Regions from separate parts of the Homo sapiens genome. Here region 1 is linked to region 2. The links come from fine-mapping of genetic effects on gene expression. A gene starts in region 2. The other region holds a variant in brackets. All regions are shown on one strand. Distances are from middle to middle. Region 1 has its middle 14 kb from the start of LINC02189. Region 2 holds the start of FOXL1 (forkhead box L1).

Evidence for each region.
Region 1: its variant is fine-mapped to the expression of FOXL1 in minor salivary gland (GTEx, PIP 0.95).

Annotation. Positions count from the first base shown.
Region 1 is chr16:86,699,204-86,715,903 of GRCh38, reverse strand. No RefSeq gene overlaps it. Among named protein-coding and RNA genes, the nearest start is that of LINC02189, 14 kb to the left of the region's middle. RefSeq lists an enhancer at 14,866-15,773 and a silencer at 16,035-16,222. The variant A/G (reference allele first, on the strand shown) is at 7,764.
Region 2 is chr16:86,573,642-86,581,930 of GRCh38, reverse strand. It overlaps FOXL1 (forkhead box L1), which reads right to left and starts at 3,382. Exons shown (of 1, transcript NM_005250.3): 1 at 1-3,382. The coding sequence starts at 3,207. The coding sequence ends at 2,170. RefSeq lists an enhancer at 1,901-2,522.

The DNA.
Region 1 (16,700 bases), 130 kb before region 2:
AGCCATGAAAAATAATGAAATCATGTCATTTGCACATCACGGATGCAGCTGGAGGCCATTATACTGAGCAAATTGACACAGGAACGGGATACCAAATACTCCATGTTCTCACTTCTAAGTGGGAGCCGAGCACTGAGCACACATGGACATAAAGATGGGAATGATAAACACTGGGACTAATAGACATGGGAGGGGAGGAGGGAGACAGGGCTGAAAAACGATCTACTGGGTGCTGTGTTCGCTACCTGGGTAATGGGACCATCTATACCCCAAACCTCAGCATCATGCAATATTCCTATGTAGCTAAACTGCACATGTACCCCTGAATCTAAAATAAAAGCTGAAACCATTAAAATAGTATAAAACAAATTTTAAAATGGAGTGAGCCTCACTTTATAGCAGCCATTCAAGCTGAACTGTGGAAAGTCTCTACTGGATCCGGAGCCTGTGGTTGACACTAATTCCCATTGAGCCCGTGAATCCCCACATGTGCCTTCACTCTCCACCTACCCAGAGCCCCCCTCCTTTACAGTGTCCCCCCTTAGAAGTGTCCCCATCACCTCTAAGCATGAGGCCACTTCTGAAGTCCCAGAACATCCCAGGTGGTGTGACCAGCTGTGCCTTATCTCCGGTGCCACTGCTCTGTGAGGAAACCTGACCTTCAGAGAAAAAAAAAACCTAAGTAGGAGATAAGCACTGCAGAAATTTTAGAAGATACAAGTAAGGAGAAAAGAGGGAAGAATGCTCATCGGAAGATAACCACTTGGGCATATGATTTGGTGCAGCCACTTTGGAAAAGAGTATGGCAGGTCCTCCACAACCTGGAGCAACCCTGGGACCCAGTGAGTCACTCCCACCTATCTACTCAGGAGAAATAAAAATGAACTTCCATGCAAAAATAAAAATAAAACAAATAACGTTTTGCAAACTTGTAAACAAATGTCCACGGCAGCTTGTTCACAATAGCCAAAAGTGAGAACAGCCTAAATATCCATCAATGATGAACAAAATATGGTCTTTTTATACAAGGGAATGTTCCTCAGCCACGGAAGGAAGGAAGCGCGGGTACCCCCACCACACACCATGAGCCTCAAAAACATTGCGCCGAGTGAAAGAAGTCAGACACGGAAGCCCACGTGTTGGTCTTCAGGAGGAACAGCAAGTGCAGGCTGGACACATGTGGTGGGCCAGTTAAAGTGCTATGAAAGCAGTGCCTTCAGCAGGGCCTGTGCACGTTGGCCCCATCCCCCTATGGTATTTAAGACAACGTGTTCTCATGGCAACCCTGGGATTACTCCCACTTTACAGACCCAAAGAGGCTGAGTAATGTGCCCAGGGCCCCACAGTGCATCCACACTGAGTCCATGATCCTCCCTGCCCTGGGCTGGCTCTCCATGGCCCCCTTGACTCATCACTCAACCCCCAGCCCCCGTCTGAAGACCCAGGCATGGGCATTTCAATACTCTCCATCAGCACCATTCTAACCATCACCCAGTTATCCCACGGGACATGACACAGAGGCTAGACTCAGTTTCAGGACCTGTCGCTGTCCACTGGAAATTCATTCATTCCCCAAAAGCAGAGGGAAGGCAGTGGCCCAAAGGCCCCAGACACAAAGCTGGGTCCTGAGCACAGCAGTGAAAGGGGAGGTGCCCACAGCCCTGCCAGCATCTTCGGGGTGTCTGGCAAGGCTGGCCAGTGGAACCAGGAGGGCTTGTCCTGCTCAAATATTGACCAAAAAAGAAAGCACAGCAAGGCATGGTGGCTCACGCCTGTAATCCCAGCACTTAGGGAGGCAAACGCAAGAGGATCGCTTGAGCCAAGGAGTTCAAATCCAGCCTACACAACATAGCAAGACCCTATTCTCCATACACACACACAAAAGACGGAAAAGAATGCAATAATCCAACAGATGATTTTCTAAAGCCAGGGAGACAATAACACTTTTGTGATTTAAATTCTGAGCAGCTCTACAGCTCCAAGAGACAGAAATTAGAGAAGCAGAGCCACTGGAAGCATGACTCGTTCTCTTACAATGAAGTGTTGGGTCCCATCAGTAGCTGGAAGGCCTGGAACTGTCAGTCATGCCTCTCTGAAGATGCCAGGACCTGAGGTGCTTTCTCAACAGACCAAGACAGGATGGGGACCCAAAGGGTGGGCTGAGGGGGTACTTTGAGCTTGTGAGCTGCTAAGCACACAGAAAAGGGTCCTGTCTAAATCCTGCGTCCATTTGGGATGTGCACCATGGAAAGGGGAGCAAACAGGGCTGCCCTGGCCTCTGCCCCTCAAAGCCGGGTGTTCCCAAGCCCACTGGGTCCTTGGGCTCATTGTGGCTCGGCACCCCCCGTGGCAAGTAGGGATGCCTCAGAGCCTCCTGGGCTTTTGGGCATGACCTGTCTGTAGAGTACTCTTGGGGCTGAGGCCAGCAGGATGGGGCTGGCTTGGCCGCTCAGAGGTTCCCCTGAAGGAAGCCGCGGGAATAATGGCCAGCGCCAACAGAGCAGTTGCTGCGAGCAGGCCCCTTAGGAGCCGTCTTGGCAAATCCTCCCAGCACCTCGCAAGCAGGTCCTGCTGTCACTCACCTCTCGTGATGCCAGCGCTGGGCTGCCTGGCCTTGTTCCCTACAGCTTATAAGGAGGGAAGCCCCAGACCCCCCTGGGCCTCTGCATGTGGCTCTCGTGGGAAACCCTGTAGTCAGGACCTGCCTCCGAGGCGGGAGATCTCGTCAGCAGCCGACCACGTCCAGCCACGCCAGCACCGCAGCCAGGCTCTCTGGGAGGCACCAGCATCCTCACACCTCACTCTTCCCTTCAGGGTCATGACCGCGGGTCCAGCAACCAGCACCGAAAGCTCGTGGTCACAGTGGACGGACCAAGGTTCCCCAGCCTAGAGGGCATCAGAGCCAGACCCTGGGGTTTCAGCTCCCTGCTCAGGAGTGTGGAACAGGGGATCCACTTGTCTTTTAGTGAGCCGTGAGGTGCATGTGGGTGTATATGTGTATATGTGTGTGTACGTGTGTGCATTTTGTGCATGTATGTGTGTGTTATGTGGTGTGTGTGGTATGTGGTATATGTGTGTGTGGTGTGCAGACATGCGTATATGTATATGTGTATATCTGTGCATGTGTGTATATGTGTGTTGTGTGGGCAAATATGTGATGTGCATTCTATGTGTGAACATATGTGCATGTGTGTGTACACGGTTTGTGTGTACATCTGTGCAAGTGTATATATGTATGTGCCGGTACATGTGTGTAAAGTGGGTCAGTGGGTTGTCACCAAGACACAAGGCGACATGACGCACGTGATGTACGTCTACTCTTGCCGTGCAGCAGGTCTTGTCCAGGGTTTTCCTCATGGACCAGTGCCCAGAGCCATGTGGTACAGAGGCCACCATGGGCACTCACACATGGGATGAGTGACCAATGAGATGACTCTTACAGCAGGAGACCAGCTGCCAGGTGCCCTCGTGGTCGCCCTGTGAGGAGACCTGCCCCCGCCAAGGAAACTCCTGCCCAGGGCAACACGGACGTAGCCCCAGGTAATGCACCCAGCTGCGGGGGTCCAGGGGCAGGGCAGGTGAGCTGCCACAGCACCCACGGGAGGGGAAGCAGGGTGCTCGGGAGGGAGGAGGGGAATGTTGGCATCAGGAAGCCCTGGCCCCAGACCTGAACCCCCAGCTGTGACTGAGAAGTCATATAGCCTCTCTCTGAGCCTCAGCTCTGCCATCTGTAAAAGGGGATTTATGATCTTTTCTTCAAAGAGCTGCTGTGAGGGTTAGTTCAGCAAATAGCTAGGTAAGTCCATGACAGACACGTGTGTGTGCCTGTGGTTGTATGCACATGTGCGTGTGTGTGCGGAATCTAACACAGAGCCTGGCGTGTGGCATGCACAGGTGCAATCAGTGTTGCTCGTTCATGTATTTTCCCAGTGCGTGCTTATTAAGCTCCTACTGTGTGCTTGGTGGTGCTCCAGGTACTGGGGATACGGAAGCGAACGAATATGCACAGTCTCGGCTCGTGTGTAGTCAACAGTCTAATGTGGGAGTCAGGAAACAAGTGAGGAAACAGCCAAGCAAATACTGTGTGTTCAGTAATGACAAGTGCCATGGAGAAAAAAGAACACACAAATAAATCCCAGGTGAGGGATGGAAGGTGATTCATTTTGGGGAGACTCTGTTTAGATGTGGGTGTTCAGGGGAGGCCTCTGGAAGATGGTACCGTCTGAGCTCAGATCTGGATGACAAGAAGTAGGCAGCCACACAGAGTTCTGGAGGGAGAGCATTCCCACTGCAGGACCAGCAGATACAAAGGCCCTTGAGTGGAGCAACCCCGTGGCCCGAGAGCACGCCAGATGTCCAGGGCACATGGCTCAGACATCAGGCACTCAGGTTAGTGGCACACCTGGCACCTTTCTGGGCCCTGAAGCCACCATCTCCAGCCTCACTGCTTCCCCTCACCCTTAGGGAGGAAGATGGCTGTAGCTGGCAGTTGCCAGCGACAGGCTGCACCTGGATGTAATTTCTCCCCCGTGTTAATTGGCAGAAGGTGGGAGAGGGGAGAGAGGAAACAAAATAAAGCTTCAAAGTTTGGCTGTTCCTCGCGTTAATGCCCTCTCCGGAGCACCAAGGTGGGGGCCCAGTGGCCGAGAATGGATGCCCCAAGTCAGCCTCATCATCTCATTAAATCAAATTAACGGGCACAGCAGGAGTGCCGGGCCCCGAAACAGGCTGCTTCCCTGCTGTTCATGAATAGCCTGTCTTGTTTCCCTTCAAAAATAATGTCTTTAATGTCTTGACAAAAAACCCCTCTCTTCTGGGATATCCAAAGTTAGCAAAGAATTGAGCTCCAAGCAGCAAAAAGCTGAGTTGGTGTGCGGTGTGCAGTTTCCACTTCCTTCACTGCCCCCTTCCTGCTCCATCTGAAGGAAGGGGCAGCAGATGACGCCATGCGGGAGGGGGCTCTGCCAACCTGTCCCCATCCCTTTGTTCCTTTGGACAGCTCTGAGCACCCCTCCAGCCTCCTCTGCCCCACCTTGGCACAGGAAAAGTGTTTGGAGACTGGTCCCTGGCCCTGTCCATGACCGGTGCTCTTTCAGGCGTTTTCTTCTCCAATTGTCAACGGTGTGTTCTGGGAGTTTTTCTGCCATGAGCCCTGCTTGCTGGTGGCTGCAGGAGTGCTGAGCGTGGCGTGGTGGTGGCACAGGGCTGCCTGGATCATCAGCTGCCTCCAAGAGCGATGGCTCTGTCAGCTCCAGCAAGGGGCCCATGAGTTCTGATGCATCTCCCTACCCGCCTTGGACGGCCTGACCTTCCTTAGCAAGGGAGAGGCCAGGAGGGGTGGCCAGGGAGGAGCTGGTCGTCCTCCTCTGGTCATCCCCAGACCATGGAGAACAGGACGCAGGAGTGCAGAGCCGCTATCAGAGGCCAGGAGGCTCTGCCCGCCTTGGGTGACGAGCGAGGCTGCAGCGCCCTCTGCCCAACCCCAGTCAGTGCTTACGGAGGGCCCTGGTGGGGAGGCACAGGCAGAAAGGCCACCTCGGACTCCGTAGGAGCCGCTACCAGGCCGTCTCGGGGGGCAGGCACTCTGCTCTGTGAGTGCATTTGTAAGAAGCTGTATTAGTCCGTTTTCACGCTGCGGATAAACACATACCCGAGATTGGGTAATTTATAAAGAAAAAGAGGTTTAATGGACTCACAGTTCCACGTAGCTAGGGAGGCCTCATGATCACGGCGGAAGGTGAAAGGCGTGTCTTGCACGGCAGCAGGCAAGAGAAGAAGCGCCAGCAGAGAAAATGCCAGACAATGCTTTTAAAACCATCAGATCTCGTGAGAACTCACTCACTATCACGAGAACCGCATGGCTGAAACCACCCCCATGATTCAGTGATCCCCACCTGGCTCTGCCCTTGACACGTGGGGATTATTACAATTCAAGGCGAGATTTGGGTGGGGACTCGGAGCCAAACCCTATCATTAGCCTTTCGGGATTTTTCAAACGGAATATCATTGCATCAGATCTCTAACTTTACACTTTTCAGAAGGATCGGTTAAATGAAAACAGACCTTAACATTCAGACAAGTTTATGTTGTTGCACCTTAAAGATTTGGGCCTGGGGCTGGGATGCACATATCCAGTGCATGGGTGGAAGAAAAGAGCAGAGTGGGGCTTGATCCTGAAGGAGTGGGGAACCACCGTCCTCCGCATCCAGTCCCTGCTTCTCTCCAGCTTCACTGCTCACTGCTTCTCCCCGAAGGGTCTCCCTTGCGTCCACCCTGAAGGCATTGCCACTCCCCCAACATGAAGTCAGCTTGCTTGATGCCACTTCTGTTCAGGCTGTGCCCTCTGCCCGCTCTTCTCTTGCTACCATCTCCTCCTCCCCGAGCTTCTGCATGGACCTCACCGCCCCCAAAACTGCCCCTGATTTCCCTCCCAGTACTTCCCCTACAGTGACTCACACAAGATTGTAATTGCTGTTTATCTCTGTCTCTTGCACTGAATTTGGAGTCTAGGAGAACAGAAAGTGCCTGTTTTTCATTGTGTGTCCCCAGCACAAGGCTCAGAACGTTTCATCCCCAGGGATCTTGCCTCATTGTTGCAACATGGCTGCTGCAGCTCCAAGCATCACGTCCTCTTCTGAGACTTCTTCTCTTTGAATGTCTCTCCCTTACATAAGGAGGAAAAATATTCCCCAGAAACAGACTTTTTATGTCTCATTGGGCAGAACTGGGTCAAATGGCTACTCTAAACATTGAAAGAATTAGATGGAGGGAGAGAGGTGAGAAGAATGGATAGAGGAGAGGAGGGAAGAAAGGAGGAAGGAAAGAAGGAAGGAAGAAAGGAAGGAAGGAAGGAAGAGAGGAAGCAATTCCCTGAATTGCTTTTCACAATGCTCCACTATGATTATATTGTAGGTTTTATGGGAATTGCAGTCAACCGAATTGGGGAAAATATGGGAATTGCTGACAAGAAGTCAGCAAATGGGAGACCCGGATTCCAGGTCTGGTCCTGACTTGTTAGAACACTGTGAGAAATACAGACAGCCTATCTCAGCCCAGCTCTATTGTCCCTGTCCTCAGATGGCCCTGGGGTCTAGCCACAGCTTTCCAATCAGAATCCCCACCAGGGGCTTCCCACAGCAGATGGCATGAGTCGTCTCCCCAGAGCCAGCCCTTCCGTTCTTGCACACAGACAGTCGGCCTCCCGTGACACAGGCTGCAAATGCAACATGCTCCTCTTCCAGGAGCTACCACAGCACCCATGGCAGGAGGCCAGGTAACGCATCCAGTCACAGGGGTCCAGAGGCACGGCAGGGGAGCTACCACGGCACCTATGGTGGGGTCCAGGGGTCCACTGAGGAAGGGTCTTTTGGCCCAAGTCGACATAAGGGGAAGTCTCCTTCCGGAAAATGCAAAGACAGGCCCCCTGCCCCACGCTGGCTTTGGATGTTGTCTTGAGAGGTTGAGATGCTCGAGTCTGCGGCCCCTTCCTATAGCCTGAGGACGAAGTGCCGTCACACCGAGTCTGGACACACCTGGGCCTTGGTGACATCATTAGGGCCCTGAACTCACCTGGGCTCACTGTGTCTGTGCCTCTCACGAGAGAGCGTTAAAAGTCGTGTTAACACTGTACCTAGATTTCCCACCACTTTTCGCTGGGACATCGTTAAGTGAAACATTTCTCTTTGGTAGTGGCTGCAGCTTTCAATCATGGCCTTCAAAATGTCCAGAAAGCAGGGATGGCTGGGAGGAGAAGGGTGAGCTTC[A/G]GTGAAAATGGGACCCTAAGGAACATCAGTGTTTATGTTGCTCACATAAAGCCTGTCTGCTTTGTACTTGGCCTTCCGAAATCAGAGTCCATACACTTCAGTGTAGAAGTGTCTCATTCAGCCGTGGAATAAGAATCTAATGACAGAAAGTAGAGTATGAGATGTGATAAAAGACATGGGAAATTCAAATGGCGTTGGTGGAAGTCATTTGCCAGAATCCTCCGACCCAGGAGAACGAGTCTTAGAGCCCACAACTCCCTGAATATCGGGTCCCTGAACGCTGGCTGTCTTCTCCGGTCACGTCTGACTCAGCAGCCTGGGTTTCCGTCACGGGGCCGTGCAGAGCGCATTTGGTGTAGACGGCCTGCAATCCACGAGCCTCTCCTTGGGATTGCACTGTTTCATATCTGGATTTCCAGTAAGTTTCTGTGCGTGAAAAGAGGGAGCACTGTGAACACGCATGGCTCTCAGGCCACGTCGCCGGTCCACAGGTATGCCAGAGCACAGTGGCCCTTGTTTATGCCCATGAAAGGCTGCGTTGGCGTTTTCCTGTAAAACCCTTGCTTTCTTCAAATGAGATGTGTCCTGACTTGACAGGCTTTGGCAGAAGGTGGAAAATTCCAGTAACTGAGTAACCCAAAAGGCAGCGTCTTTATCGAGCCAGGATGTCAGCAGCTGTCTCTCGAAGCCCTACGCTCACATCTGACACTTCGAGGTATCACTGCAGTCACGCACTCCACGAAGGGCATGAATGGACGGCGCTCACTTGGTTCTGCTCGAAGCCAGGACGGATTCAGGAGCATGCCGCAGTGGAGTAGGGAGTTTATTTAAAGAAAGGTTGTACCCCTTAGTGTTTCGCAGAGTTAAATCAGAGGTGCTTGTGGCACCCACTCAAAATTGACGAGGCCACGCCGGGCTGCACACTTCCTCCTACACTCTAATATCTCTCGATTCCAGAATATTCCGCACAGTGCTGATCAATAAGGGGAACTACGGGGTTGATAGCTGTCGAGGCCCACTCCGCGTGCAGCTCATGTGCTCCTCACAACTCCAGGAAGTGGATGTTGCTCTTATTCCTCACTTACAGTTGGGGAAACTGAGGCCAGCAGGGTGAAATCACCCGCCCCCAGCTCCTACAGTGGTTCCTGTATGGGGCGGAGGTGGGATGTGAATCCAGGCTGCCCAACTCCAGGCCCAGACTGTCTCTCCATCTGGGGAGCCATCAGCTGACACCGATGAGCCAGAGTCCTCCCGAGCTGCCACTTGGCTCTGGAGCGCAGCCCCTACTTCTCCCACTGCCTCCCACAGGTCTGTTCAGCCCCCAGTGCTGCCTCAGACTCAGTGGGTTACAAACTGACCTTGGCCTTCACAATGGGAAGGTCAAACTTCACTCACCTTGTCTTCCTAAGGACACAGGATGAGAAAGGTGAGGAGCTTCCCCGGTCACAGGGCCAAGCTCCTGCTGCAGCCACGGCTCTCTGAACCACCCCATTCATACCTACATGGCTGTACCCCCAAAATGCCCCCTGGAGCCTGCTACACACAGATGCCAAATCAGAATCGCCGAGGTAAGGCACAACTATTTGGGGACCCTACCACTCCGTCTGTTCTCCCATGCAGGGATGTCCACTTTCCTCTCTTGAGCACACACGCTAGGAATTGCAGCACTGGCCTCCAGCCACCCTCAGGCTTCACAGGCTTCTTCCCATGGGGAAGGAGGGGTGGCTTATCTGGCAGGTCAGCCTGGTGCTCCCTGGGCCAGGAGTTCCACCTTAACACACAGCCAGGGGCATCCACGGTCGGAGGATGCAGGGGCGTGTGTGCCTGCCGCTGGCTGGTGAGGTCAGGGCCATTACAGATCAAGATCTAGGTTCCCCAGCAACAAAGAGGGTTCTGGACGTTGATCCTCGTGGTTCCTCGAATCTGTGCTCTGTGGTTTTCTATCCTAGAGGAGAGGTGATGTGATTAATTCGACATTCCCAAGCACCATCCTTACAAAAGCTCTGGCAGAAGAGATGGGACTCGAACCTAGGTCTTAGCGTGTTCTTTTTGCCCACATCGCCTCCCTTTTCTTCCAGAATTCATGACTCATTTTTTAAGACATGATATTTTAGAAAATTGGCCCATTTTCTAAGAAAGAATGCAGACATTGGCCAAAAAAAATTTAAAATTCCGATAAGGCATATATTAGTCCATTTTCATACTGCTATGAAGAAATACCCAAGACTGGGTAATTTATAAAGAAAAAGAGGTTTAACGGACTCACAGTTCCACATGGCTGGGGAGGCCTCACAATCATGGCAAAAGGCAAAGGAGGAGCAAAAGCATGTCTTACATGGCGGCAGGCAAGAGAGCATGTGCAGAGGAGCTGTGCTTTATAAAACCATCAGATCTCGTGAGACTTATTCACTGTCATGAGAACAGCAAGGGAAAAACCCACCCCCATGATTTAATTACCTCCCACTGGGTCCCTCCCATGACACATGAGGATTACGGGAGCTACAATGTAAGATGAGATTTGGGTGGGGACACAGCCAAACCCTATCAGGCACTTTAGGGAAGACTCATGAAGCCCCTCCCCCAAGCCTCTCTCAGTCTGGTCCACCTCTGTATCTCACTGCCAGGACCCTGGGCCATGCTGCATCGCCTTGTCCAGGACCATCCCACAGTTTGGACGGGGCTCCCTGACTCCCACCCCCACCCAGTCCACGTCCTGCAGCTCAGCAAAGGTTGATTTATTTATTTATTTTGAGATGGAGTCTCGCTCTATCGCCCAGGCTGGAGTGCAGTGGCACAATCTCAGCTCACTGCAACCTCAGCCTCCCAGGTTCAAGTGATTCTCATGTCTCAGCCTCCCAAGTAGCTGGGATTACAGGCGCATACCACCATGCCTGACTAATTTTTGTATTTGTAGTAGAGACTGGGTTTCACCACGTTGGTCAGGCTGGAATCAAACTTGTGACCTCAGGTGATCCACTCGCATCGGCCTCCCACAGTGCTGGGATTACAGGTGTGAGCCACCGCGCCTGGCCACAGCAGGGTTTAAAGAAAGGTTAAACCACTTAGTGTTTCACAGAGTTAAGCATGGCTTTGAATGATCCAACACCAATTCTCTTCTTTGTTTAAACCATTCAAGTCTTCCCTGGGTCCTCAAGACCCATGCAGTTTGAAGCCATCAGTGGGCCCTACTACACCCCAACCCCATCTCACCTCTACCTCTGCTGTTCTCCCTCTCTCAACACTCACCCCCGAAACAGAGAGTGAGCTCCTCATCTGGTCATTACCACCCTTCCGCTCTAGGCTTCAGTGTCACCTCCACCAGGAAGCCCTCTGCTCTCTGAACTCGGGACCCCCATTACTGGGTGCTCCCTCTGGATTGTGTCAACCTCATCCGCTGTGTGAACAGCTCCATGAGGGCAGTGATTGTCTGTCCCTCACATCCCAGCACCTTGGGCTCCCCCACCTGGACTTCCTGAAGGTGCCCACCAGCTCCTGTCCCCGCTGGTCAGGGGTCGGGGCAGCAGGAGCAATAGGGCCCTGCAGTCTTGCGAGCATCCCTGGTAAAATCAGGATTGCTTCCCGGGAGGAGTGGGCCCTCCTGAGATGCTTTTAGAGTTTGTTTCCAAAGGTGCATTTTTAAAAAACTAAGATCCAATCCAAGAGAAGAAATCCTACTTTCCTTTGCCATTTAGTGAGAAGGCATTGAGTTTGGCGGCGAGGGGCACCTTCAGGAAATTTGGGGGTTTACTTCTTTGCAGGAAGAGTTACCGCTGGGGGATTTTGATTCTCATCCTCATTCTTTTTTCCTGGAATGTGCGTGGAATTCCCGGGGCACTGCATGCCCTTTCCAGGAGGCAGGCTGCACACTTTCCACCTGGGGCCCTTGCATTGCCGCCCTGCTGCTTCCGCTGTTGGATTTTGGGGTTTGAGGGGCCCTTCTCACTCACCTCCCCTGAGCTCTGAGAGCTCACCTCACCCTCTTGGGGCTTCCAGGGAGACAGTTACCATCCCCATGAACCCATCAGCTTCTCCCTGCAATGCCCTTTTCACTCTGGTGGAACACGATCATCCCCTTCACGCCTCTTCCTGCTCCGGGGCCTCCTCCCAGAGTCTTGCCTTTGAAGTGCGTCTGAGCCCTGGCAGCTTTCAGGTGAAGTTACACCTCTTCTTATCTTCCCAGTGTCTCTGGGGGTGAGGCCTTGGCAGCTGCAAGACTCTGTGTGGAGGAGCCTGTCCCCGGGGTGACCTTGGGCTTTCTGAAGATGGCACCTGGGCTGCAGACAGATGGAACAGAGGCAGGGCCCGGCCCAGCCTGGCCCTGCACCCAGCACCTGCCCCATCTACCTGTCTCCTTTCATAACTCCTCCTCTGCAAGGCGGGCTCCACACGCGTGGAAGGTGGCAAGGGTGACACCCTACACAGGTGCTAGTGGCTGCCAGACTTTTATATAATTGCAGCAAAATATACTTGTTATCACCGTTTAAACCATTTTTATTCATATTGTTTTGTATCCATCACTACCATCCATCTCCAGAATTTTTCTATCTTCCCAAACTGAAATTCTGTCCCATTAAACGCTAAGTCAACACTTCCCATGCATCCTCTCCCAGCCCTGGCACCCACCATTCTTTCTGTCTCCATGAATCTGACTACTCTAGGCACCTCGTATATGTGCAGTTGTACAGTATTGTGTGTGTGTGTGTGGGTGTGTGTGTGTGGGTGTGTGTGTGTGGGGAGGTGTGTCTGGGTGTGTGGTTATGTGTGTGGGGGTGTGTGGGTGTGTGTGTGGGTGTGTGGGTGTGTGGGGGGTGTGAGTGTGTGTGGGGTGTGGGTGTGGGTGTGTGGGTGTGTGTGGGTGTGGGTATGGGTGTGTGTGGGTGTGTGTGTGGTGTGTGGGTGTGTGGGTGTGTGGGGTGGGTGTGGGGGTGTGTGTGTGTGGTGTGTGGGTGTGTGGGTGTGGGGGTGTGTGTGGGGGTGTGTGTGTGTGGGTGTGGGGGTGTGGGAGTGTGTGTGTGTGGGTGTGTGTGCCTGGCTTATTTCACTGAGCATAATGCCCTCAGGGCTCATCTATGTTGGAGCATGGGTCAGGATTTCCGTCTTTTTTAAGGCCGCGTAATATTCCACTCTATGGATGGACCACATTTTGTTGACTCATTTATCTGTCAACGGATACTTGGATTGCTTCCACCTTTTAGCTATTGTGAATTGTGCTGCTCTGAATGTGGGTATGCAAAAATCTCTCCAAGTCCAGGTGCAGTGGTTCACACTTGTAATCCCAGCACTTTGGGAGGGTGAGGCAGGTGGATCATTTGAGGTCAGGCGTTCGAGACCATCCTGGCCAACATGGTGAAACCCCGTCTCTACTAAAAATACAAAAAATCAGCCAGGCCTGGTGGTACACACCTGCAGTCCCAGCTACTCAGGAGGCTGAGGCAGGAGGATCAGTTGAACTCAGGTGGCAGAGGTTGCAGTGAGCTGAGATCATGCTGCTGCACTCCAGCCTGGTCAACAGAGTGAGACTCCATTGCAAAAAAAAAAAAAAAAGAAAAAGAAAAAGAAAAAAAAAATCCCAAGACTCTGCTTTTAGCTCCTGTAGGTATATACCTAAGAGTGGAATTGCTGGGTCATATGGCAACTGTCTAATTTTTTGAGGAACCTCAGAGTGTTTTTCACTGTGGCTGCACTATTTTCCTTTCCCGCCAACTGTGCACAAGGATTCTGTCCTCTCTGCGTCCTTGCCAACATGTGTTATTCCCTGCCTCTTTCAGAACAGCCGTCCTAATCGGTGTGACATGGAATCTTTGCTTGTTTTTTTTTTTTTATTTTTTTTCGAGACAAGGTCTCACTCTGTTGCCCAGGCTGGAATGCAGTGGTGCAATCTCAGCTCACTACAACCTCAACCTTCTGGGTTCAAGTGATCCTGCCACCTCAGCCTCCTGAGAAGCTGGGATGACAGGCATGTGCCACCATGCCTGGGTAATATTTTTACAATTTTTAGTAAAGCTGAGGTCTTGTTATTGCCCCGGGTGATCTTGAACACCTGGGCTCGAGTGATCCTCCCACCTCAGCTCCCCGAAGTGCTGAGATTGTAAGTGTAAGCCACCGTGCCTGGCTCAGATAGTTTCTGAAACCTCCGTTCTCAAAACCTGTTGGTCATCTTGTCCTGGAACACCATTTTGAAGTATTTATCCCTCTCTCCTCTCTATTATCGAAGAGGTAGTTTTATGAAGCTGTGGTCCTGCTTTAGGTGCCAGAAACTAGCTGTTGTCATTGTGATACAAATGGGAACCCAGGTCTCCCCAGGAAACTGCCCGGATACTCACTCTGGAGGAGGCAGAATGCGGGCGGCCGTGCTGGGAACAACCCCGGCCTGCTGGCTGTGGCCGGCCTGCAGATCCCTGAATCTGTAGGTATCCAAGACTTGAGGATCACCTGAGCCTCACCCCAGAAGGCGGTCACGATTCCCCATTGTACCAAAGAGGGAGTCAGGGCTTGAAGGGAAACTCTGCGCTCAAAGCACTTACGCGAAAAGCACATCTGTCTTCAACCGCATCCAAAGTGCTGGCCACCGGTCTTCCATATGGTCTCCCGGAGTGGGGCGTCCTGGCCTGAGGAACAGGACCCGAGGCTGCGGTGGGGTCTCTGCCTCCTTTTGTGTCTGCCGCCCAACCGTCTTCCGACAGGAGCAGGTGTGGAGGTCCCTTAGCTCTTTCTGTGATGCGCGCTGGTTCATTCCATCGGCGTTTCCGAGCACCTGCTGCATGCCCGCAGGGTGCGTGCACAGAGGGTACATCAGGGAACAGAATGGGGCGGGTCCGTGCCCTCCCAGCTTGTGAGGGTGGGGGTGGGTAATGAGGAAATTAGTGCGATGGCCTCGGAGGGCGCTGAGAACCACGGGAAATCAACTCAGGGAGACTATGGGGTGAGGCTTCGATTGGCTGCTCAGGAAAGACCCCTCTGAGGACAGAAGAAGCTACCAGGGAAGAGCTTGCCAGACAGGGGGGAACACCATGGGTGCAGGAACCCCTGCGGAAGGTCAGGAGGACAGAGAGGGCCAGGGTGGCCATGGGGGGCGGGAAGGGGAAGGGGAAAAGCGGAGCAAGGGAGCAGGTCCTGGATCGTGCACGTCTGTGGGAGCCCAGAGAAGCCCTCTGGATTCGATTCCAAGGGTGATGGAAAGCCATGACCCAGGCCACGGTGGGACGGGGACTGCAGGTGGCGGGGGACGAGGGAAGCAGCTGGCTCTGTCCTCCGGAAGGAGAGGATGGAGCTTAGCTCAGGTGTGGAGGCTGTGGAGCTTCTTGGGTGCCCATGGAAGGCTGCACGGTCCACACTCAAGGAGGGCTGGACGGGGGAGTTCAACAAAGACAACTCTGGGAGGTGGAGGGTGGGGTGCCCTTTTCAGAGCCATGGAGGAGGAGAGGAAGAGCAGGCCTGGGCAGAGCCCAGAGGGCCCGTTTGGCCATTTTACATCTGAGATGCCTCCAAGATGAAAACCCGGGGCATCTCCAAGGCATCTGGACGTGGGCCTTCCTGATCGGGGACTCGACAGGCCCTCCCGCAGCTGGGCGTGGGCTGCGACCTCTGTGAGCCGTCGCATTTCATCCTCCCGGCAGCCTCACTCCCCTGCTTTCACAGGTGGGGCGGGCAGCACGGCTGGTGAAGACCGGCGAACGAGGCTGCAGGTTTGATGGCAGCTCCCCTGACACCGCCCTGGGCTCTTCTCCAGGACCAAGGGCTGGAACCACATGCAATTGCCCAGGCGGGTGGAATGGAAGAAAAAGGATGGGATGGGAGGCTGTCACCCAACCAGCCCCCTTCTCACCAGTGAGCCCAGATTTCGAGTTGACATTCCTTTGGAATCCATCCAGTAGAAGAGCTCTTGGTAGAGAAATCTCTCTCAGCATGATTCATTCTTATTTTTAAAAAGAGAAGACAAAAATGTAGAAGAAAAGAAAAGCTCATCCTCTCTGTTTGAGGTCCTGCAGCTGAATTCATCAAGAAATGCAGGAAGCTGATTTTCTGTCTCCTTCTGCCACTTTGAGGATGTGCGGTCTTGTTTTCGTTTGCCATTTTAAGCCCAGCCTTTTAAAGAAAGATATTTCACTCTATCAATGTTCAGTTTATTTTGTTACATAAAATCCCCTAAACCTGACCTCGTAAAAACCCTGTTGAGCTCAGTATTCAGAAAGGCAACCAACTCACAATGAGCTCACTGTACAAAGAGGGTGTGTGTTGGGGTGTGCTGCATGTGAGCATGGTGTGTGTATGTGTGCGTGTGATACCGCACACGTGCAAACTCTAGAACATTATAGCCAGAAACAGCGGAGGCCCTCGAAGAGCACCCCTGAGAAGTCTCGCTGAGCAGGAGAAGTAACCTGGCCCTCTTCACCTGTCCACAGGTCTGCCTACAATGCGCAAACCCACAGAGGCCACCTGTCAGGGTGTTGGCGGGCCCCGTGGGTTACGATCATCCCCTGAATATCCCCTGGTAACCTTTGCACCCTGCTCTGAGTCCTGGAGTTTCTGTCATCTCCTACAGTTACATCTTTTTGTTGTGGAGATTACAAGCTGGCCAAGGAGTAAGACATTTTCGGCTGGGCACGGTGGCTCACGCCTGTAATCCCAGCACTTTGGGAGGCCAAGGCAGATGGATCACAAGGTCAGGAGATAGAGACCATCCAGGCTAACACGGTAAAACCCCATCTCTACTAAAAATACAAAAGTTAGCCGGGCGTGGTGGCAGGTGCCTGTCGTCCCAGCTACTGGGGAGGCTGAGGCAGGAGAATGGCGTGAACCCGGGAGGCAGAGCTTGCAGTGAGCCAAGATCACGCCACTGCACTCCAGCCTGGGCGACAGAGCAAGACTCCGTCTCAAAAGAGAAACAAAACAAAACAAAACAAAAAACACATTTTCAGGGGCCTCCAAATAAAAAGA
Region 2 (8,289 bases):
AAAGATTAAAAACCGATTCAATACGGCAGAATTAACTCATCGTGCTTTCTGATATGGAGGCAGCTTCCTGGGCCCGGCATCCTCTCCACTCCTTCCCCTCCATCTGTGTGTTTACCCCTCAGAAGCCAGAGCCTCCTGAGATGCTAACACGACTCCCAGATATAATCCCAGTCTCCTCTTTCTTATTACACTGTTTGTTTATTTCCCTCCAGTAATCCACTGAACCAGTCACTGAGAGGTTAATGAAAAAACAACTTTATTCACAGAGGCTGAGAGTTTGGGATAGCAAAATATCCAGTGACAGCCCTTTCGCTACATTTTCAGTGAATCACAGTGAGCCTGGATCTCAGCAATGGCTCCTCCTGGAAGTTCTTCCAATCAAGGCTGGCCTGAAGTTTCCCAGAGTCTTCCCACTGGCCTGGGTAGAACCCAGTCGTGGAAGCCTGGTTCAGCATGGATAGGAGAATGAATTTTCCAAAAGTCACCTCTATGCCTGTGAATTATCCAATTACTCTGCCGGCCTGAAATGTCCTTTCCAACACATTGACCAACAGGCCCTCTGGATTCAAAGTTTGTCATCATTTTTAGACAAGTCCTGGAAACTATTTTAAAAGCGATCTTAAAGACCTCCCTCCCAACCTATTTCCAATAGTGCGTGACTACTTGTGTCTTTATCACATGACATAAAATAAAAGTGACTTAGAGGTTCAGAAAATTGCATTTCAGGGCCTCGAAGATTACCCAGCTAGAGATGGCATAGAGGTCGGTTGCATTTCCCCGGAAGCTGCAAGCTGAACTTGGTTGTGAACATCTCAATGTTCTTAATTAGATTTTCGTTGCAGACCTCTTCTCCCCTCCCCAGACTGCCAGTCACCTCTTTAAGGTTTTGATTTAGTATCAGCCTCCAGGCCTGCCTGGCAGGGCTGGGAGGGAAGAGCGGGCGGCTGCAGGGGGTGCGGGGGCCAGGAGTGTCTGGGAGATTCCTGCCATCAAACCTCAGGTCCTCTGGGGCCCAGAGAGGCCCCTTCCAGCGGACACCAGCACGTCCCCTTATTCTTCCCCCGCATTCATCCCTCTCTCTCTCTGCATCTGCTTTTGGTTGTTTCACCCAACTTTTTAAATTAAATGTAGTCTTTCATTATCTGTTTCTGAAAAATATAGCGACCACCAAGCCTGGATCTTGAAAAAACATGGAAATCAAAACTCTGACATTGTCCAAGGCATATCCCCTTCCCCTCACACCCTTCCTCATGGTATCCCTTGAAATATTTTGATCCCTTAAAAACAAAAGCAAAAGGATAGGACGTCTGCTGTTGTGGCTTACATAGCTGCATGTGTATTGGCTAATGAGCTATCGTAATGCAAGAAGATGTTATATAGAGTGCACTTTCTTAATAAAAATTGTTAATACAAGCGTTTTCAAAGGTCAATGCTTAGAGTCAAGTATTTATGCAAAGAATGAAACATGTTCTTTTTACTACCCAGAAAGAAATTAAGAGAAAAAGTCTCTGTTTAAAATAAAAGTGTTATTGCTCTGGGTGGTTATCAGCTTCTATAGCTGAACATTGGTCATAAATCCTCATCGGGCCCTACATCTCTCAGAAAACCTGAAAACCCGGGGTCACCCCCGGCACCTCCACAACTTCAAGTCAGGAACAAACCCAGCTGTGACCACCCACCACCCAGATGGGCTCAAAACCAAGGCCTGAGCCACACGGCAACAGCGAAGCAGGCGACGGTCATACGGGGGTCCCCGGTCGAAAGGACCTCAACTGCACCTGTAAGGCCTGCCTTGGGTGGTCTGCGGGCCCTTGCATGCCCGGGACTCGCAGGACCTGCGGTGGGCGGCTGAAGACCACACTCCATTAGACAGGTCAAACGTCAAGGAATCTCCCGCGGTGGAGGTCCCTGCAGGGCCCACGTGCGGTGCCCACGACCCCGCGGGGATCTTTTAAGTCTCCGTAGCTGCTCCCAGTTGCTGGGAAAAGTTTGCTTCGGAGAAGGCAGGCGAGCGCGCCCACCTGCGCGCAATGGTTGGTAACACTTCCCTGAACCCACAGGCCGACCCAGGCAAAGATCATTTTAAAATCCTCCGCCGGTGGGAGCTGTGGCCTTTCGCTCAGCGGAGGCTCAGGCTGGGCCGGGAGAAGAACCGTGCCATTGTTTGCTTTACTGGAAGTGGAGTACCGTGTCGGGAACCTGCAGGGGGAAATAAGAGAGGAAGGGGATCCCGAGCTGGTAAAAGCCGCCCTGGACATGCGGGTCGAGCATCAGGGAAGCGTTGAAAGGCGGACGGAGGCTGGAGGAGGCGGCCAGGAGCGAGGCACCCAGACGGCCGCCGGGCCCAGGCTTGGCACCCCCTAGGAGTTCGTCCCCTGAAGGCGGCTTCTGGCCCTGCTTTCCCGCCAGGATGCTGTCTATGCTGAAGCTCTTGGACTTGTCGGAGCTCTTCGGAGAGCTGCGGGAGGCGGGGCGCAGAGGGGACCCCGGGCCGTCCCCTGTGCGCGCTGCCTGGCCGACCGCCACGGCCGCTGCGCCCTGGGCAGCGTCACCAGCGTCCTCGTTCGGGGACGCGGTCCCCGGCCAGTGGAGGGGCGCCGGCGGAGAGGGGCCGTCCAGGAGGGGCGAGGGGCCCGCGGGCGCTGCCTGCAGGCGGGAGATTGCGGGGCCCGAGCCCCCTGCCCCGCTCCCCGCCTCCGGCTGCGCCTCCGCGCTGCGCTGGTGCGTCTCGGCGCGGGGCCTCTTGGCCTCCGGGGCCCCGGGGCCCGGCTTGGGCTTCCTCTTCCGGCGCCGGTAGTTGCCGTTCTCAAACATGTCCAGGCAGCGGGGGTCCAGCGTCCAGTAGCTGCCCTTGCCCGGCCGCCCTTTCTCGCGGGGCACCTTGACGAAGCAGTCGTTGAGCGAGAGGTTGTGGCGGATGCTGTTCTGCCAGCCCTGCCGGTTGTCGTGGTAGAAGGGGAAGCGGTCCATGATGAACTGGTAGATGCCGTTGAGCGTGACCCTCTGCTCGGGCGCGTCCTGGATCGCCATGGCGATGAGCGCGATGTAGCTGTAGGGAGGCTTCTGCGGGGTCTCGGCCCGGCCCGAGGCAGCTAGAGCAGCCGCGGGGGCGAAGGCCAGAGGGAGGCCGGGTCTCTCGGGACCGTACAGATACAGCATGGGCGAGGCGGCCAGGGCAGGCAGCCGGGGATCGAAGAGGTGACTCATGGCAAGCGAGAGCCTGCGCTGCGCTCCCCGCAACGCAGGAGACCCGGGCGGCCTAGGCACTGCGCCCCGCGCCGCAAGGGCCCTCCCGGGGAGCCAGCCGTGCCTCTGCCTCTGGCTCTGCCGCTCTCCCCGGCCGCTCCGTGCTCTGTCCCTTCTTCATGGCTTTAAAAATGTTAAATAATTGTTGTAAGTTTGCTGTTATATGTTGACTTAGCCCTGGAAAATAAATTGTCTATGATAAACAGTCCTTGTGTTCTCAGCCCACCCACATTAATTAAAATTTCATTGCTGAAAAACTCCAAGCTTTTCCCTCCACGTGTCTTTTTGATACCAGCCAATCGGTTTTGGGGCTATTCCTTCATTTGTTTATAGAATTAGTCTGTTGATAAGTCCGCCCACCCAAGTTGAATCAAGCTGTGTTTATTTGGAAAAATTTCCGGGCACCCAATATATAAACGCACTGATCTGATGTTTGAAATATCACGTCCACCCCTTGACGCTGTAAGCACACACAGTCAGTGAGGCAGGATGTAGACTGCGGTGGCTCAGAGCAGGGTCTGCTGAGCCAGGAAGGAGAGGTGGAGATGGGGGTGGGTGTGCAGGGATGAGTTTTACGCTGGCCTGGGGGAGCCCCATAACGCCAGGGCCTCCCACAAAAGGTCTTTTCTTCTCCCAGGCTTAACCGGAGATATCGAGATGCCACAGTCTAGTAAAACACTTTCTGAGGTCCTAGGAACCTTTTAGATTGGGGCAGGGAGAGTATCTAAGAAGCCTGAGTGTCTGCTGAGAAGGGGATGCGGCCCTCCCTGGAAAAACAGGTGGCAGACCCAGTAGGAGGTGGCACTCTCTAGGGACCTGCTCTCCCACACCCTCCCTTCCAGGGCTCTCCGGAAATCGGAGGGAAAGTGGACTCTGGGAGCCCAGTCTCTCTGGAAGGGAAGGCCTAAGGCACTGGGGGCCTGGGGAAGAGCTCATGGTCCACAGCTCCATTGAGGAAGGTTTCAAAATAAACCCATTTAGAGAACCGGGGGCAAAAGTAAGGTCCTCCTGATGGGGCCAAGGTTGCAAGAGAGGAACACCATAAAAGGAGGCCGTGGCAGCTGGCGCGGGAGGCCTGGTATTTGTGAATGTGGGTCTCCAGCTTTATATTCTGGGCTTTCCTGTTTATAACAAGGAGGGGGTTATAACAACTTTACAAGTGCATGCAGCTGGCCCGTGATTACATTAGGCATTTGGGAAGCCTGCTTGCTCTCCCTGTATCCACCCACCCTGGGGTGTACGCGGCCCTCCACCCCCATCTCATTTTACATTTTCCCACATCACTGTTTGAATAAAAAATCCTGAATCATGCTGATTTCGAAGGGGGCCTCTCCTCCCCACTCCACCGGTTAGGGTAAGGGTAGAGGCACCTAGTGTGACTACTTCCTGTTTATGACCACCCCCTGAATATTAAAACACACACACACTGTCACACACACACCCACACACACACACACACATTCGGATAACTGGCGTCTCATTGAGCAAATCGTGTGAGCATGTCAAAGAGATGAGGGAAGGGGGAGGATGGCAGGTGGGTGTAGAAATGGCCCACTGCCAGTGGGCCAGGAAGGAGGGAGAGGCACCGAGGGCACTTACAGGGGTAGGGGGAGTGTCTGCCGCTGCCACACCCGGCTGAGGATGTGAGTGCCCAGGTAGCCTCTGAACACGGAAACGTGGCGGGCATCCTTTTTCAAAATGAGAAAATCAGAAATAACCCGTGTGTTTGGGGTTCCTGGGTATCCAGCCCATGGAATAAGTAGACCGCAGGGGAGCGGGTAAATTTAAAATACCAAAAAGGAAGTCGCAGGAAGGGTGGAAAAACCGGCCTGGGTACCGGCACTGCCTGCGGGAGCGACAGGCCAGTCCCTGGGACACCTCGGGCCTCCCTCCGCGGCCCTGCTCCTCTAACGTGGGTCCAGCGAGCAGCCCGGCCGCGCCCGCCTAGGTCCTGGGGGTGAACCTCTGGCCAGGAGGGGCGAGGCTTTGTCTTTTCGTTACCACTCGCTCTCACCCGCGTACCCCTTTCAAACTTGGGGTGAAGAAACCTCAATGCCAGCGCCTTTGCAACCCGCAGGCCCCACAGTCTCTGGGGTCACCCAACCTCTCCGGGGCCGCGCGCCCCCAGCAAGCTCAAGTTTGGATCCAGTTCCTTCTCCAGCCTCGGCGCTCGCTCCAACACACCCAGACCGAGAGATAAACCGGTGTCACTATGCAACCCTTTCCCCACCTTCCTATCCCACAGCCCCTCCTGGAGCTCCCCACGCGGCACCCGAAGTCCAGCACGCACATCCCTGCCTCTACCGAAACTCCCGCCGTCCCGGCGCGTCTTCTAAACTCTAAGGCAAATCCGAGCTTGAATTTGTACGGTGATAAATACTGCCCGATTTGGTAATGGGCGGGACGTGGGCGGAGACACGGGAGGCTGGTGGGCGGGGCACCGATAGTAAAGCAAAAAAAAAAAAAAAAAAAAGAGAGCGAGAAAGAGACAGAGAGAGATTAGGAGAGAGAGAGAAAAACCAAAAAACAAAAAACAAATGCCCACGCTCTAGTCGCGGTTTGGAGACGCACACCCAGCCCCGCGCGTTTGCAGAAGTGTGCAAAGTCTCCGGGAGGTTTCAGCTGTAGAACTCCGGCTTTGCGCCCCAGCCCCGCTCCAGAGCGGGTTTGAATCCCGGGCTCCCGGGTGATTGATGAGTTTGTAACCTGAGCCTAGGAGGGGCCTCTGTTAGAAGGAACCCCGCGCTGGGGCAATTTCCATATTTCCGGGGAGTGCAGGCTCAAGCCCTAGGAGTCCGAGAGCGGATGCGCCCTCGTGCGGAGGCTCTGTTGGCTGAGGCCAGAGCGAAGGGCCTGCGGGGGGCAGCCGAGCTGGGAGACGGCCGGGCGGGCCTCTAGAACGAGTGTCCTAGAGAGCCAGATGGGGACACTGAATGTTCCCTGTAGATTCATAAGCCTCGGATCCCAGAAAAGCGCGTCATCTGAGAAGTCACTTGGTGAGGGCTCACCTCCCAGCCTGCAAGAAAAGCCTGAGATCTCTGGCCTGCCCGGATGCTCCAGAAGGACTGGAGTTTCCAACTCTGAGGCTTGAGCAGAAACGGGGTTCAGCGTGGGATGAGGGTAGTCAGCCTCCTTCCCAGTCCTGGGACAAAGCGCATGTGCGTTCCTCAGGGAGGCAGATCAGAGACCAGGCATTGGTGATGAAAACGGCCTCAGATAAAAAGGCTGACGGGTGAGAGACAAGAGCTCCTCCCACTGCGCCCCAAGCCATCCACTCAACCTTCCTCACTGGAAAGCAAAAAGCAGAAACCTGAGTTAACAGTAATCTGTGTCGCTTTCCAAACATCTGCATCACTTTTCCAAACGTAAAGACAGTTACCGCATGTACGACTTGTGTGTGTGTTACATACGTATGCATGATTCAACCGCGTGTAGCATGTTTGAGAAGAGCTGCGGTGGAAAGATGAAGGGTTTAGCCCCTCACCTTACTGACAACCTAAAAACATTGGAGACAGATGATAATAATATGAATAACTAGAATGTACTGAGCCATTTCATCCTCACAGCAGCCCTAATAGAAACCTTTGTCGCTCCCATTTTGCAAACCAGGAAACTGAACAACGCCCTGTAAGTTAACCTGCCTCAGGTGTCCCATGAGGAAGTGCTCCAAAGACAGAAAATAATCTTACAATAGCACCAGGTGTGGACACTCAGGGCTCCATGGAAGTTCTCTTGCCAACTCTTACTAAATCTGTGAAAGGCAGGCGTGGCAGATTCACCCATTTGACAGATGATGAAACTGAGGCTCGGCACATAACACCCCAAGACCCTGAAAGTAGGAAATGGCCGCACAGGGACCACAGCCCACGTGAGTGTCCTCCAAAAGTGGGTGCTCTGGGGTCTGACATGCTCAGGTATCTGGAAGGACTCAGAGGCAGAGATTGTCTGGAGTAGACAGTGGGAGAGGGGCCCTCCAGAGAGGAGAGGGTGTGCAGCACCCCTGGAGCTGGGAGATTCAGGACATTATAAGAAAATCCCAGAGTCCTTGCTTATGTTCCACCAAAACCCAGAAGACCTCTTCCTCCTTCCCTCCCCGCCCACTTTGAAAAGAGTGGAAGATTTCCAGAGCTGGAGTAGCAGGGCCCAGGGCCTCCCTTCTCTTGGGAGGCAGTGAGCAGGACATGAAGGTAATGGTGGTCCCACTGAATCAGCAAATGCAGAAGGAGACCCAAAAGCTGGGCGGGACTTCCCAAATGATGCACTTATTTATAGCACACCTTGTTCCCAGAAATGATCGAAAGGCTCTAAACAGAGGCAGTTGGTGCACATGCTCTCACTGCGTTTTTGAAAAGCCCAACCCTCTGCTTTCCCTGTAGAGCAGGAAGGTTGAAAAAGGAAGGAAAAGCCTGGCAGAATTAAAGGTGAGTGGCATCTTCCCAGACACAGTGGCATTCCCTGCCGGGGCTGCATGGCACGGTATGATAAATGCAGGTCACTCAGACCAAAGATTCCTTTCTCTTCCTCTTTTTCTCTTCTGTGTTCCACGTAAACCTTAATGGCTGGTCATGACAGTTTACTATGAACACGACACTATGGAAGCACCTTGCCAACCTGTGTGACGTTCATGAATCCCGGAGATAACCCTCTCAATGCTATGACTGTTTTCAGCCGAGAGACTGTCCCAGAGTGCTTAAGGTGATCTGTCTGATGTCACCTGAATCTTAGTAAGGGCCTGAGTTGGTGCACATGGATTCAGCCTTAGAGAGAGGGACTCCACTAGGAAGGCCACCTGTGAAAATAACACAAGACAGATGGAGACCCAGGGCCAGAGGGCCGCTGAGACAGGTGAGGCCCAGGGTCTCCACGACCTCGCAGCCTGGGTGGGCATAGACTGAGGTTCCAGAGCATGAAGCTGCACCTCAGGACACAAAGGGGGTGGAAGCCTCCCAGCTCCATCCCCTAAATGGGTCTGGGATGCCAGCAGCTTTACCAACCATGCCCCCTTCCCTCTTCACACACCCACCACCCAGGATGAAGTCCCCA